Regions from separate parts of the Homo sapiens genome. Here region 1 is linked to region 2. The links come from fine-mapping of genetic effects on gene expression. Tissue or cell type: prefrontal cortex. Region 2 holds a variant in brackets; the other region holds the start of a gene. All regions are shown on one strand. Distances are between the middles of the regions.

Region 1 (8,273 bases), 180 kb after region 2:
ACATAACTGGACTGACTTTACAAAGCAGAGAAACCCAAACACATGAAACGCTTCATATACCCATCACCATTATACCATGCAAGGTAACAATCCCCCATTCAACAGACATTACTGCTGACACGTCAGGCTCTTGTATAGGTCCTGGGATGCAGAGGTGAACAACACAAGCCCTGTCCTCATGGAATTGACTTGTGGTGACCTCCTTGGGTGGTGGTGGTGGTTGTTTTAAAATAGACTTTATTTTGTAGAACAGTTTTATAGTTATATAAAAAAATTGAGGAGAGAGTATTTTTGTATACCCTTACCCAATTTTCTCTATTGTTAACTTTTTTTTTTTTTTTTTTTTTTTTGAGATGAAGTCTTGCTCTGTCGCCCAGGCTGGAGTGCAGTGGCACGATCTCAACTCACTCCACCTCCACCTCCCAGGTTCAAGCAATTCTCCTGCCTCAGCCTCCCGAGTAGCTGGGATTATAGGCATGTGCCACCATGCCTGGCTAATTTTTTGTATTTTTAGTAGAGATAGGGTTTCACTGTGTTAGCCAGGATGGTCTCAATCTCCTGACCTCGAGATCTGCCTGCCTCAGCTTCTCAAAGTGCTGGGATTACAGGCGTGACCCACCGCGCCCGGCAACATCTTAACATTAGTATGGTAAATTGGTTACAATTCATAAAGCAAGATTAATACATTATTATGACCTAAAGTCTGTAGTTTATTCGGATCTTCCTAGTTTTTAACGTATTGTCTTTTTTTTGTTCTAAGATTTCATGTTACATTTAGTCATCATGTCACCTTACGCTCCTCTTGGCTGTGACAGTTACTCAGGCTTTCCTGGTTTGACAGTTTTAAGGAGCCCTGGTCAGGTATATTGAAGGATGTCCCTCTTTTGGAATTTGTCTATTGTTCTCATGATTAGACTGAGGTTATGGGTTTTGGGAGAAAGATCACAGAGGCAAAGTGCCATTTTCATTCCACATCAAGGGGACATAGTAACAAGATTATCACTGTTGATGTTGACCTTCATCACCTTGGCTGAGGTCGTGTTGGCTATAAAGTTACTCTTTTTTCCCCTTTCTATACTGTGCTCTTTGGAAGGAAGTCATTCTGTGCAGCCCACACTTAGGGAGTGGGGAGTTATGCTCACCCTCCTTGAGAGCAGAATATCCACATAAATTATTTGAAATTCTTCTTGGCCGGGTGCAGTGGCTCACACCTGTAATCCCAGCACTTTGGGAGGTCGAGGAGGGTGGATCACGAGGTCAGGAGTTCAAGACCAGCCTGGCCGTTATGGTGAAGCCCCGTCTCTACTAAAAATACAAAAATTAGCTGGGTGTGGTGGTGCATGCCTGTAGTCCCAGCTGCTCAGCAGGCTGAGGCAGGAGACTTGCTTGAACCCAGGAGGCAGAGGTTGCAGTGCGCCCAGATCATACCACTGCACTCCAGCCTGGGCGACAGAGCAAGACTCGGTCTCAAAAAAAGAAAAAATAAATTCTTCTGCAAAAGAGAGTTGCCTCTTGTCTTTCATTTATTTAGTCTATCATTTATTTATATCCACATGGACCCATGGATATTTATTTTACACTTGGGTTAAATCAATACTACCTTATTTATTGCTCAAAATTTTCTAGCTTTGGCCATTCGGAGTTCTTTCAGTTGACTCCTGTGTCTCTCTGACATATCCCCATCAGTGTAGGGTTTTCTGAACATTTCCTTACTTTCTGGCACAAGATACTGCAGGCTCGCCTTGTATATTTCCTGCTGCAGTCCTAGAATGAGTCACTTCTCTAAGGGGCCCTGGTTCCTTTTATTAAAGAATGATATTATAAACCAAGATCTGGGGTCTGGGCATGGTGGCTCATGCCTGAAATGCCAGCACTCTGGAAGACTGAGGCTGGAGGATTGCTTGAACCCAGGAGTTCCAGACCAGCCTGGGCAACATGGCAAGACTGTCTCTACAAAAATAAAAAAATTATTTGGGCACTACTCAGGAGACTGTGGTGAAAGGACTGCTTGAGCCTGGGGAGGTCAAGGCTATAGTGAGCTGTGATCACACCACTGCACACCAGCCTGGGGAACAGAGCAAGACCCTGTCTCAAAACAAAACAAAACAAATAAAAACAAACCCTGAGATCTGGGGCAGTAGGTATACTCGTCGTTACTGGAGATGTTTGGGGTTTTTTTTTTAATGGTAGTTTTTTTAGATTATAAAAGAAACACATGCTCATTATAAAAGATAATTAGAAAATGCAAAAAATGTATGCAAAAATCAATTTGACTATTCCCACTATCCACTACTTTTTGCTTTTTCTCCTCCTTGAATTTACACAGCCAGAGCTGGAATAACAGATTGGGGAGGATAAAGAGACAACTACCTTTATTCCACAAAATTGTGCAAGATGTGCTGACATAAAGCACATGGTGGGTCACTGCCCCAGTGGCACTCAAAGTCTGGAAGCTCTTCCTGGAATCATAGGAGGGAAGAACTGGACAGGACCTTGAAGACCACCTGGTCCAGCTCCTTGTAAATAAAGATGGTGGCTGCTGGGAGGTGGGGAGGTGGTTCTCCATGTGGGGACTGTGGCTTACCTAAAGTCAAACCACAAGGTAGTTACAGATCCTGGCCCAGACTGAGTGCCAGGGACCTGATTTTAATTCAACTATGTTTTCTGATGTGCTTTTTCAGTGCACTAAATATTATGATTTGGCGTAGTACAAGCTAGCAATTAGGAGAACTAACTTTGGGATCAGACAGACCAGATTTGAGTTCTAATTGCTGTGTGACATTGAGCAAGTTTCTTAACTTCCCTGAGATGAGTTTCTTTTTTCTTTCTTTTTTTGTTTTTGTTTTGAGAAAGGATCTCACTCTGTTGTCCAGGTTGGAGTGAAATGGTGTGATCATAGCTCACTGTAACCTCTGAACTCCTGGGCTCAAGCAATCCTCACGTTTCAGCCTTTTGAGCAGCTAGAACCACAGATGTGTGTCACCATACCTGGCCTATTATTTTTTTGTGTGTGTGGAGATGGGGTCTCGCTATATTGTCCAGGCTGCCTAGAACTCCTGGTCTCAAAGAATCTTTTCCAAGAGAGACTCTGTCTCAAAAAAAAAAAAAAAAAAAAAAAAAAAAGAAAAAGAAAAAAGAAAGAAAAGTATATAATAACTTGTCAGAGGTCCCACAGCTGGTAAATAGCAGAGTTCTGTTTTGAACCCATACTGAATCCAGAGCCTCTAAGTTCCTAATCATTACATGAGACTTCCTCTCTTTTTCTTAGTAATGAAGATAATAATCATTCCTATCATAAAGGATAATGGAAAATTAAATGAGAACATCCACATAAAATACTCAGTGCCTACCATGTGTTACCCTCCAACAATTGTAACCATATGAAGTACATAGCTGTTTGCAAGTTGCTTTGATTTGATTTGATTCATATATATTTTTTGAGACAGAGTCTCACTCTGTTGTCCAGGCTGGACTGCAGTGGCGTGATGACAGCTTACTGCAGCCTCAACCTCCCAGGCTCAAATGATCTTCCCACCTCAGCCCAGGTATGCAAGTTGACTTTAATACAATTGTGAGGAAAAGTGAACAGGTGCAAAATTATTTGAGACAGTTAATATTAAGCTTTGGGAACGGAAGCTACTTGTTACCGGACTTCTGATTGGAATCAGGGCCACACAATGCCTTTCAGCTCCCATGGTCTTTCTTGGCCCTCTAATCATGGATTCTCTCTTACACTCTTATTCCAGTAGTTTTCTGAGCTTCTTATTCTCTGGATTAGCCATCCCCTGAAAAAAGGCAACCAAACTTCCTAGTGTGTGTGTTCTACGTGAAGAAAGAAGATCATGTGTCTAGTTCCAGAACACACCCTCCCCACCCCCGGCCTCAACCAGAAATCCAATTCTTCCCTGCTGACCCCTTTGAGAGACCTGGAGGGACAGAGAATTGACGGTGGGTAAAGGGTAAGATGTTGGAGTTTAAGGGTTCAGGCCTGGACCAGGAAGCTGTCTTAACAGCCTAGTGTGGGGCCATGGAAGTGAGTTCTGAAATGAAGTGGAAGGCAGGCCATCCGCACTGAGATGCAGCAGCTGGAACACAAAACTCCAAGGTGACTGTTAACTTTTCCCCAGCCTTCCAATCTCAGACTTTCCTCAGGAAACACCAGGCTCTTCTGAATTAGTCGCGAGCAGAACCATCGTCCTTTCCTTCAGAACTCTGACCAGTTTGAAACTGTCTAACTTCTTAATGTGGCTATATGATCGTTTGCAGCTGGCCTGCAACTTGTTCTGGGAATGGAACCTTGGATTTTAGTCACCACTGTCGCTAGCATCCTGCACAGTCAGCCACTTTTAGAGAGCATAATGCAGAGGGGGAAATAAATGAGATTTGGAATAGAGACGGGGTTTCACCCTGCTGGCCAGGCTGGTCTCGAACTCCTGACCCACCCCGCCTCCCAAAGTGTTAGAATCACAAGCGTGAGCCACCGCGCCCGGCCCCACAAATGTAAGATTTATGCACTTCTCCAAGCCAAGTGCTGTGCATCGAATGGAGGAACTCGTACCTTTGCAGGATTTTGTGATATATGTGAAATAATCCGGACATGCTTCTGCTATGGTTGTTTGTCGCCATAGTTTGCGAATCTGGGTAAACCTGGATGAGAGAGACGCCTTACAATTGCAAACATTTCTCAGGAGGCCGCCTGAAAACGCCCAAACCATAGAGCTCAGTTCCTAGCTAGGCCTCTACCAGCCACTTCCGCTCGTCCGCCTAATACCGCGCCTGCGCACCGCGTCTCTTCCTTTCTGGGCTCGGACCTAGGTCGCGGCGACATGGTGAGTGTGGGTCTCTGTGCGGCCTAGAACTCTATCTGCCTGCATCTGTCCTTGTTTTCTTCTCCCGCACCCATCTCCTCTCCTGCCTTACCCCGTGTTCTCTCCTGTCTCCATGCCTTTGCAGGAGACACCATTGTCGGAAGCTCCCCAAGGCGGAGGGGCGGGGGCGCCTTGGCTGGGCCTGGCGCGCTCCAGCCGGGTTAACGCCGGGCCTTCGGAGCGCGCGGCCAGCCCTGGGCACTGGTTTCGTTGGGTTGAATTTAGGGAAAACTAGGTCATATGTAATTCACATGTCGGTCACACGTCAGTGAGGTGGAGGAACGGTGTGTGGAGGCTCCAGGGCCTGCCTGGGTTCCAGGTCTATCACTGGTTTCTCCCTTCACTCTAAACAGGCCAAACGTACCAAGAAAGTCGGGATCGTCGGTAAATACGGGACCCGCTATGGGGCCTCCCTCCGGAAAATGGTGAAGAAAATTGAAATCAGCCAGCACGCCAAGTACACTTGCTCTTTCTGTGGCAAAGTAAGTAAGGCAAAGTCTCTGGTGAGAGGAGAGGGAGGGCAGGTTTCTTACCCAAGTGAGGCCTGACTTCAAGGTATTTTATAAGCCGTGTGCTGGTGGGCAGTTGGAATTACTCATACCGTTGATTATGAGTTTTAAGATAAAAGTGTTGATGGTAACTTCAGATTTTGTGAGACGTTTTTCATTTAAAGAAAACCGCTTAAACGTTAATGGGTAAAATAATCATTTGACAGAGTGCCCCCAGCCTAAGCCAAACCTGCTTTGTGGGAAATGATTCCATCAGTTTTGTCTACTGATGTTTCTGCACCAACTCCCAAGATGTCTGTGCATCTAATACCATTCTACTTGTTCTGCGAGGGATTTTTGTTTGATAAAGGTTTGAACGTTTATGTGCAAAATACTGCATTACAGCAATCCCTGTTTTGTTTTTGAGGGAGAAAGGGAGGCTTTCACATCCCTGACAATAAGGTGAATCCAAATTTAGACTTCTGGATGCTTGTAAGAGAAAATACTTACTTGGTTCATAGTGAAAATTGGTTCTCTTTTATAGACCAAGATGAAGAGACGAGCTGTGGGGATCTGGCACTGTGGTTCCTGCATGAAGACAGTGGCTGGCGGTGCCTGGACGTACAAGTGAGTCTAGTTCCTTGTGGTATTTGGAAGTGTGTGGACCACATAGGCCCAAATTCCAGGTTGCTGCTGGATGGGCTAGTTTTAACACTTTCTCAGGACTGAGAGAATAAGGATGCCTTTGTATTTTCAGGATTCTTCCGTGGTGGTTTATTTTCAGTTATTGAAAGAGTAAACACAAAACTACCAAAATAGAAGTCGGAAATCTAATTCACAGACTACTTTAGAATTTGATGGTCACTGGGCACATTGTTGTGAACATTGTCATGATACTGTGCAGGTCCATTAGTGGGGCTGAATCTACTGAACGTTGATTTGCACTGCAAGTTTTGATAAAAATAGGTGAAGGGGTCAGTTAGTTCAAAACTGTATTTGGAACTTGAGGCCATCAGGACCACCACAGTTTCGTCTTTCTGAACAGTATTAGACTGCTGCAGGTTTGTGAATCTGCAACTCAGTATCACCTGACAGGGCGATACTACAAACACTATACTACAAACTAGCATCTAGACCTGTGTTGTCCAATACACTAAGCACATATATGGCTAGTGTAATTAAAGAATTGGATTTTAAAGTTTCAGTCAATTTAAACTTAAACCGAAGCAGTGGAAAATGTTGAAATATATATATATTCCTTGTGGGGGTTTTTATTAGGGCAGAATGGAAAATGGGAACTAGAGTGCTTTCTTGGTTCTGATAGGAAAGTGAATTATTTATATACTTACAATACAGGATGGTGATTTTCAGGTATAGTTCCTGAATTTTATGGTAAAACTTTTGTAGTCATTTCAATAGCTGTCTTTCCCAAAGGCACTTTAGTGTCCGCTCTTATTTCCTTAATCATTGTTCTCACTGTATCATCTTGTAATTTATTCATTTCTTGTAATCTGTCCATTCCCTTTTAATAAGTTTAGGTCAGCCTCTTAGAACCATTTCTTTTTCATGGGATGGGGTAGGGGGAGTTAAAGCTTGCTTGTCCACAACTGAGTTACTTATAAAAAAAAAAGCAACTCTGGTTGAGAAATCAGATGCATGAGATTGTATGTCTAATTCTGCAAGATCCTGAAGGCATGGCTCTTAAAGGATGCCATCATGTAGTTTAGAAGCCACTAATTTCCGAGGAGTAATCTAATGTTGGTTAGATCTTTGGATTGACTGCAGCAAAGTATTGGTAGAGCAGTCTATCTCAGTATAATTCTTTCTAGGAAAATTTGGGAAGCGACTTTAACACAAAAACGAGGCAGATTTACTTATTTGCCATTTTCTATGTTAACATGCTTAATTATGTTGGAAACTGAATCTTTCTTTCCAGTACCACTTCCGCTGTCACGGTAAAGTCCGCCATCAGAAGACTGAAGGAGTTGAAAGACCAGTAGACGCTCCTCTACTCTTTGAGACATCACTGGCCTATAATAAATGGGTTAATTTATGTAACAAAATTGCCTTGGCTTGTTAACTTTATTAGACATTCTGATGTTTGCATTGTGTAAATACTGTTGTATTGGAAAAGCATGCCAAGATGGATTATTGTAATTCAGTGTCTTTTTTAGTAGTCAAATGGTAAAATGCAGCATAAGAATATAAGTCTTCCAAGTTAGATATGAGTGTTAGCTTTTTATAAGTCTGCTCCTGCCAGTTTGACTTTGAGATACATTGGAGCCAACTGTAAACTTTAGTTTTTAAATTACAGTTAGTTTTTTTGTTTGTTTTTGAGGCGGAGTCTCTGTTACCCAGGCTGGAGTGCAGTATACCAGTCTTGGCCCACTTCAACCTCCACTTCTTAGGTTCAAGCGATTCTCCTGCCTCAGCCTCCTGAGTAGCTGGGATTACAGGCACGCACCACCATACCTGGCTAATTTTTGTATTTTGAGTAGAGATGGAGTTTTCACCACATTGGCCAGGCTGTTCTTGAACTGACCTCAAGCGATCCACCTGCCTTGGCCTTCCAGAGTGCTGGGATTACAGGTGTGAGCCACCACGCCCAGCCTTGCATTTAATATTTTTATAATGTGTCTAGGCTGGGTGCGGTGACTCACGCCTGAAATCCCAGCACTTTGGGTGGCTGAGGCAGGTGGATTACTTGAGGCCAGGAGATTGAGACCAGTGTGGCCAACATAGCAAAAACCCGTCTCGACGAAAAATACAAAAAATAGCTTGGTATGGTGGCACATGCCTGTAATCCCAGCTACTTTGGAGGCTCAGGCACAAGAATCACTTGAACCTACGAGGCGGAGGTTGCAGTGGGCCAGGATCGTGCCACTGCACTTTATTTAGCCAGGACAACACTCTGTCT
Region 2 (8,000 bases):
CAGGTCTGTCTGATCTGCATCACTGGAGCCCTCCAGAGCAGGGCTAATCCCTAAGGGAGGCGACATCCTCCATCAGGGTCTTTCTATCCCTGGTTTAGACACAGTCACCATCCACATAAGCCCTCTGCTCAATGTTTTCTCTTTTCCCAGGGAAACAAAGCCCTTTGCTGCTCTGATTCATCGCCTGGTTGGAGGCCGAGTCACCACAGCTCAGACGCAGGTGTCTGGGGGTGACACAGCGCGACACTGCGCCTCCGGAATAAGGGCAGTCCTTCCGCCTTCGAGGCTGTGAAATGTCAGGCATGATTAGAAAGGTCACTTGTCCTGATAGCTCTCTGTGCTTCCCGGAGAGCAGCCTTCCTGCTGAGAACATTCTTAATTGTGCTTCCTGCTGTGGGGTCCCTGCCTGCTCACGCCCCTTTCTAAAACGGAGGCCCTATCTTCCTCCTAGTCCCTCTTGAACATGTGGGAAAATTGCTGAGGACTGCAAAATCTTGCAAAAACAGGGCAGCTCTCTGATTCAAGGAAAGAGATGAAAGGCAAATTTCTAGAACGGGGTATTGCATAGTGGAAGAAGGAAATTTCATTCTTGAAGAAATGAAATAGGTCCACAGTCCTGGGAAATGGGGGGCGGGAGAGGGGTGCGGGGACAGGGTCAGAAGAACTGAGGCACAAAAAAATAGATACACCCCCAAATCCCAAAATTATACCAGTAGAGCCAGGAACTAAGAGTAGTGTCAAGGTACTAAGTAAAAACTGAACACTGAGACAGAAGTTCCTAAATTGCTATGTACTTCTTGCCCCACCCCCAGAACTTCTGATTCTGCAGGTCCAAGGTGTTGTCCAGAAATCTGCATTTTGAAAAAGGTACCCCAGGTCATTGAGAAGCAGGTGATCTGTGCACTTTACTTTGAGAATCCTGGCATAAGGGATGAGGAGAGACTAGTCACTGGGCACATCAGAGGACTCCAAGGGGGAATTCCTTACATTTTGCTCAACAGGAGTGGCTACGGACGTCTGAGTAATCTAAGCATGACCAGCATGGGATGAGGTGGGAGAGGGGGACTGCCTGCAAGGGAGGGAAAGGATGAGCACTCTCCAACCTTCTCCAACCTTCTAACCTCTTCAGCCCAAGCTGGTCTGGAAGGGGCTTCTGAACCTGTCAAGTCCAAGCCTGATATGAGTGCCCCCACCCCCCAAAGCCATACTCTTTCATTGGCGTCTTTATAGAGGACCTGCTCTCCAGTGATACATTGCTGGACAATTATCTTATGGCAGAGCCATTGGTTGGTAGTGTTATTTTCTTATCTCATAGAAGTTTCTGGGGTAATGGGAATATTTTTATGTGTATTTAGCTTTTATCATATCTTGTCAGGGAAATGCAGCAGGAAGGTTGGGCTCTAAAACATTAAATCCAACTAAACCCCCTCTCCTCCCATGAGGAGCCAATTTGGGTGCCCACATGCAACATCAGCTTCCTAATCCTTTTTTGTTTTTTTTTAGAAACAGGGTCTCACTCTGTCGCCCAGGCTGGAGTGCAGTGGTGTGATCTTGGCTCACTGCAACCTTCCACCTCCTGGGTTCAAGTGATCTCATGTCTCAGCCTCTCAAGTAGCTGAGATTACAGGTACAAGCCACAACGCCTGGCTAATTTTTGTATTTTTAGTAGAGATGGGGTTTCGCCATGTTGGCCACACTGGTCTCGAACTCCTGACCTCAAGTGATCCACCCCCCTTGGCCTCCCAAAGTGCTGGGATTACAGGCATGAGCCACCATGCCCAGCCCCTAATCCTTTTAAAGCAAGCTTTTTTTACACCTCTCTATAAGCGGGTAAAGTAGAGAAAGCATATGACCGGGTCGTGTGGTGATGGCGTGAAGGATATGAATGGAAGAGTAAACAGTGGACACATTGACTATCAGAGAATTCTGCAATTCCAGGACAGTTTGTGCTGATGGAGGACAATAGAAAGATCTCAGCCATTGTGCCAGCTGTCTGACACTGAGAAGGTAAAGGGAGTAGGTGTGAAGATTACTAGGAAAACAAGAGTTCTTCCAAGCAAATGCAACCAGCGCTTCCGAGGCTGATCTTAGATACAAGCTGTGGAAATGAAAGCATGTTGCTCATTGCAGAATCTTTCCTTCTTACAGCAGGAAGCTCGATTCAAGTCACCAGCAGAAAACAGAGTTGCCTTCATGTCTTTACTCTCAAGGTTCTGCAGGTTAGTGCCTCGATCTAAGTTTTCCTTACCTTGGCACAGGTCATCCTTAAATGAATGTTACAGCAAGGGAAGCAGGCAGTTCCTCACCACCTCTGTTGAGCAAAATGTAAGGGAAAGGGAGCCGAAGCAGAAAGCATCCTTAAGCGGGCAAACGAACGCCCCTCCCAGGCCAGCCAACTGCTGTAGGGGACGGGGATGTAGCAGTGAACAAATCAAACAAAGCCCTTGCTCTCAGGGGACTCATTCCAGCAGGACAAGATAGACTTTAATAAACAGGTAATTTCAAAATATATATGGGAGGGGGTCATAAGTGCTATGAAGATAATTAAATCTCAATAAAGGGATGGAGAGCAATGGAAAGTACCAGAGGGGTTCAGGGAAAGCCTTAGGTGATGAAATTTGAGCAGAGACTGGAAGGAAGTGAGGGAGTGAACTGTGTGAATATCAGAGGGAAGACCAGACAGGGAGGAGGGCAAGTTCACAGGCCCTGAGGTAGGAGCAGGCTGATGTGAGAAAAGAGGCTGCCGTGAATGAGAATGGCAGGAAATGAAATCAGAGAGGTGCCAGGGGCTCCACTGCCCAGGGCCTTGCTGTCATGATGGGACTTTGGGTTAACACACAGAAAGCGCTTACAGCTAAAGAGATTTTCCTCACCCCCAAACTTTAATGATGTGACTAAGAAAAAATCATCAAAGCTACTTCTTTAGGGGATTTTAAAGACACAGATTTCAGAAAAGGGACACACAAAAATGAAAGCAGTCTATGTAGGGGAGGTAGGATTATGGATTTTCTTTTCTTTTTTCAAAAAAGAAAAGAATTTGTGATTGCTGAAATAATTCTGGAATATGAAATATATTTACCTTAAAACAAATCTACCTGCCGGGTGCGGTGGCTCACATCTGTAATGCCGGCACTTTGCGGGGCTGAGGCAGGCGGATCACTTGAGGTCAGGAGTTCAAAACCAGCCTGGCCAACACGGTGAAACCCTGTTTCTACTAAAAATACAAAAATTAGCCCAGTGTGGTGGCGGGTGCCTGTAATCCCAGCTATTTGGGAGGATGAGGCAGGAGAATCGCTTAAACCCAAGAAGCAGAGATTGCAGTGAGCCGAAATCGTGCCACTGCATTCCAGCCTGGGCAACAGAGTGAGATTCCATCTAAAACAAAACAAAACAAAACAAAACAAACACAAATCTACCACCACAGGGGCAATGGACAGGGGGTGCTTCTGTATCCCCAGTGTTTGGAATTGTACCCAGTGCACGGCAGACACTCATAAATGCTCGTGGAATCAATGAAATGAACCTCTTGAGACAGGTTACATGTCCTGTCTAGAGCAAGAGAATAAGAAACTATCCAGGCCCTACCTGAAGCAAGTCAATATAATCCTAATTTCTTTACCTCATTCTTAGAGTTTTGCAATTTTCAAATTATTCATGCCCTATAGAGAGTTTGATAATTAAAGAAATACTATGATTTTGAGCACAGAAGCTATAGAAACTTTTATTGGTCTCTTGGGAAACATAATAAGCCTCTTCTTTGACTTCAGGCTCTGGATTTTCTGCTGAAACTGGTAATGGGAGAAACAGGATTGAATAAGGAAATCTACACTAGATGCTGGGATTTACATCCCCAGCCCGTCACTCAAACTGCCTCCTTCCACAAGGACTGAGATGCCAAACTTCCCAGGCTCACTACTCTCAGGATGATAGAACTAATACCCCCAACTGCTTGGCCTGCCCTCACAAACAGCACTTGCCATTGTCATCTAGAAAGCCACATTCCTCACCAGAGCCTTCACTTGCTGCCTGGCTGGTCCTTGACATGCTCCTCCAATCTGGATGTTTCTGTGAGTTTAGAAGCTGAATCATTAGTCAATGCCTTGGTTGAGTGTTTCTTCCTCTCCCCAGTGTGATGGGTGGTGTTAAAGGGAAAGTAAAAAATCTGCCACAGAACTAAGATTACTGTAAGACACAAAGATATATTTAGGGAACATAAGGGACTCATTATTAAACAAACCCGTAAACTATATCAGCTGTTAAGGTATTACTCCTTCCATATTTTCTGAGAAGCAAATAAGAAAGAAGGATGCCATGTATTAACTCTTTTTGACCCAGTTCCTATGGGTGCTTTATTCCCTGCCTCTCTTATGAGGATCCAGTTTAGTGAATAATAAACACTTCCAGTGATTGAGTCCTTACTAAAGGCCAGGTTCTCTAATAAGCATTTCACATTGCTTAACTCATTCAATCCTTTGGGGAAGATATTATTATCCCCATTTACAGATTGAAGCAACTGAGGCTTTGAGGCATGAAATCATTTACTTAAAATCACACAGCCAGCAAATGGGCAACCCAGGTTTAAAACCAATGTCTACCCAATTCCAAGGCCCATGTTTTAAGCCACTACCCTATTATGCAGCCTCTCATAGCAGATAAGGTTGTAGAGCTATAGCCTCTTTTTCTTTCTTTCTTTCTTTCTTTCTTTCTTTCTTTCTTTCTTTCTTTCTTTCTTTCTTTCTT[TCTTTC/T]TTTTTTTTTTTTTGAGATGGAGTCCCACTCTGTCACCCAGGCTGGAGTGCAATGGCGCGATCTCGGCTCACTGCAACCTCTGCCTCCCAGGTTCAAATGATTCTCCTGCCTCAGCCTCCTGAGTAGCTGGGATTACAGGCATGCACTACCATGCCTGGCTTTTTTTTTTTTTTTTTTGTATTTTTAGTAGAGACGGGGTTTCACCATGTTGGTCAGTCTGGTCTCGAACTCCTGACCTCGTGATACACCTGCCTCGGCCTCCCAAAGTGCTGGGATTACAAGCAGAGCCACCGCACCCAGATGCCTCTTTTTCTTTAAGTAAGATTTTGCAAAATTTCTCTGAAGTTGAGTAAGAGTGAAGAATAATGATGTTGGAATGCCAGAGCTATAATACACAGTTCAAAACTAGAACTTTGGAGCGAGACAAGAAGTTCTTTTAGCCCAGAAAATAGGCTTCCTACTGTCTGTAGGAAACTCTTAACTCTTCAGTCAAGACTCCAGGGCTTCTCACAATCTGGACTAATTACCTCCCATCCATTCATTCAGTCAAACAAATATTAAATTAGATACCGACTATGTGCCAGGCAATAGGAATGCAATGGTAAATACAAATAGAATGGCCCCCACTCTCATGAAGCTCATCATTTTGAGGTGTATGGATATATATACAATTAACATATGTATATCCATAATATCTAAAATAACATGAAATTGCAATGGTGGTTAAGTTCAATGCAAGACAGAAATGTGGTGCTGTAAGAGGGGATTGGTCGGTCCTTGAAGGAATGATGCTTGAGCCAAGATATGAATGATGGCTAGGAACTGAGTTGGCAAAGAGGGGAGGGAAAATGCTAATGGAATAATCCACCCATTCTGTCCTTTCTCCCTCTCAGCTTGCCATAGCGGAAACCTGAATCTTGTTAAATGGAGATGGGCAATACAGGCAATGGATCCTTCAGGTCTCCTTCTTCCAAGCAAATGTAGCCCTGGGAACACTTTCATTGAAAAGAAAGAAGAGACAAAGTGACTGGTGACTGGTGATACAAAATCAGAATAGGGATATTGGTATTTTATCTTCCAATATGTCTTCTGGACTTCTTGGTGATACTACTAATCAGGCGGGAGTGCTGTTGTCCCATATACTGCATTTGTATGACTCAGAAAAAGAAGCCCATTCCTCCAGGAAGAATCAGCCTTGGGCATCTTGCTTGAGGAGGAGAGCATGGGCTCAATTTCTATTGCAGTGACTAGCTTCTCCAACCCAAACCAGCTACTCTTCTCCAATGAACAACCTGAACATCCACACATGGTGGACCTGTGAATAGACCTTTGTTTTACAAGTTGCTGTGACTGAAATGGCTGTGAAATGAGGACTAAACTGACCGCAAGCATTGTGCACAATGAGGTATACTTAAGGGGATGTGTGTGTGTGTGTGTCCTGGTAAATAACTGAATTGCCAAAGATGTCTACAGAAGTCCAAGGTGGGTAACAAGAATGAGAACCAACAAAGGCAGCATCTCCTAAAATGTGTTTAGCAGGACCAACTTACCAGGAGATAATGAAAAAGCAAGAGGTGGACCTCAAGTCATTAGGAGAGAAGAAAATTAAAACCAGACGATTGGCCCACTGGTGATAAGTTGCCTGGAATAATCAGAGAATTTGAAGGCTGGCTTGGTTATCCCTGGAATCTGGCCCAATTCTGGTTTATAGCAAATGTTGTTAACTAGGGGGTCCATCAGTGACCTTCAGGGGACCTGTGAACCTCCTGAAATTACAGTATTATTTTGCATGTATGTGTGCATACACACTTTTGCTGTGGAGGGTCTTAGCAGTCATCAGATTATCGGATTAAGAACTGGTCTCGGCCAGGCACGGTGGCTCACGCCTGTAATCTCAACACTTTGGGAGGCCGAGGCAGGCGGATCACCTGAGATCAGGAGTTCGAAACCAGCCTGGCCAACATGGCGAAACCCCATCTCTACTAAAAATACAAAAATTAGCCGGGTGCGGTGGTGGGTGCCTGTAGTCCCAGCTACTAGGGAGGCTGAGGTGGGAGAATAATTTGAACCCAGAAGGTGGAGGTTGCAGTGAGCCAAGATCCTGCCATTGCACTACTGTCACCTGGGCGACAGAGCGAGACTCCGTCTCAAAAAAAAGAACCGGTCTCAAGATACACAGGTGACCCAGCTGGGTGGGTCAGAGTGCATTTTGTTGAACATGGAAACATTATACCATAAGATGTCCTGTTAGAAAACAAAGCTATTTACTATTAAGGCCAAGAAAGTTGTAATTTTTCTTGGAAAGAAGCTACTAATGCCTCAGAAGAACCTTTTTCCTCTTGTATGGAGTTTGATCACCTTGCCCATAAGAATCCAATGGTAATTCTCTGAGAGGCTTGGGTTTTCTGAATGAGTGTACCTAATATTGAATAAGCAAAGTGTGTTCCTCATTAGATGTTCAAACTGATACCCTAGTAAGTTATATTTACATTCTCTCAACCTCCTTAAGCTTATAGTAATTAATTTTCTCCTTTTTTGCAATCATCCAAATGAGTGGGTAAGAATCTGGGCCCTGGAGTCCTTCAATCTGAAATGCAAGATATGGCTCTTCCAGATACCAGTTGGAGAGGTTTGTATGTAATTTTATCACCCTGAATTTCAGTTTCAGCACTTGGTAAAATGGAGATAATAATAGTATCTACTGCACTGTCAACATTAGACAGATCAACGAGACAGAAAGTCAACAAGGATACCCAGGAATTGAACTCAGCTCTGCGCCAAGCAGACCTAATAGACATCTACAGAACTCTCCACCCCAAATCAACAGAATATACATTTTTTTCAGCATCACACCACACCTATTCCAAAATTGACCACATACTGGGAAGTAAAGCACTCCTCAGCAAATGTAAAAGAACACAAATTATAACAAACTATCTCTCAGACCACAGTGCAATCAAACTAGAACTCAGGATTAAGAAACTCACTCAAAACCACTCAACTACATGGAAACTGAACAACCTGCTCCTGAATGACTACTGGGTACATAATGAAATAAAGGCAGAAATAAAGATGTTCTTTGAAACCAACGAGAACAAAGACACAACATACCAGAAACTCTGGGACGCATTCAAAGCAGTGTGTAGAAGGAAATTTATAGCACTAAATGCCCACAAGAGAAAGCAGGAAAGATCTAAAATTGACACCCTAACATCACAATTAAAAGAACTAGAAAAGCAAGAGCAAACACATTC

Alleles and levels. Positions count from the first base shown, and alleles are read on the strand shown. Sizes are in standard deviations (SD) of each study's normalised expression.
As copies of TCTTTC replace T in region 2, the expression in prefrontal cortex of the gene that starts at base 4,704 in region 1 goes up (large effect, 1.1 SD a copy in BrainSeq).

The links. PIP is the estimated chance that this variant, and not a neighbour inherited with it, causes the effect.
Region 1: it holds the start of RPL37A-DT, and the variant in region 2 is fine-mapped to the expression of RPL37A-DT in prefrontal cortex (BrainSeq, PIP 0.91).

Annotation. Positions count from the first base shown.
Region 1 is chr2:216,494,049-216,502,321 of GRCh38, forward strand. RPL37A-DT (RPL37A divergent transcript) reads right to left here and starts at 4,704. Exons shown (of 4, transcript NR_183317.1): 1 at 4,559-4,704. It overlaps RPL37A (ribosomal protein L37a), which reads left to right and starts at 4,796. Exons shown (of 4, transcript NM_000998.5): 1 at 4,796-4,829; 2 at 5,222-5,350; 3 at 5,901-5,983; 4 at 7,293-8,273. The coding sequence starts at 4,827. The coding sequence ends at 7,356. RefSeq lists a silencer at 2,041-2,110 and enhancers at 4,213-4,302, 4,483-4,872.
Region 2 is chr2:216,315,930-216,323,929 of GRCh38, forward strand. The region is part of intron 1 of MARCHF4 (membrane associated ring-CH-type finger 4); the gene reads right to left. MARCHF4-AS1 (MARCHF4 antisense RNA 1) reads left to right here. Exons shown (of 3, transcript XR_001739877.2): 2 at 2,149-2,219; 3 at 5,640-8,000. Among named protein-coding and RNA genes, the nearest start is that of MARCHF4-AS1, 17 kb to the left of the region's middle. RefSeq lists enhancers at 1-758, 2,779-3,510, 3,511-4,242. The variant TCTTTC/T (reference allele first, on the strand shown) is at 4,741.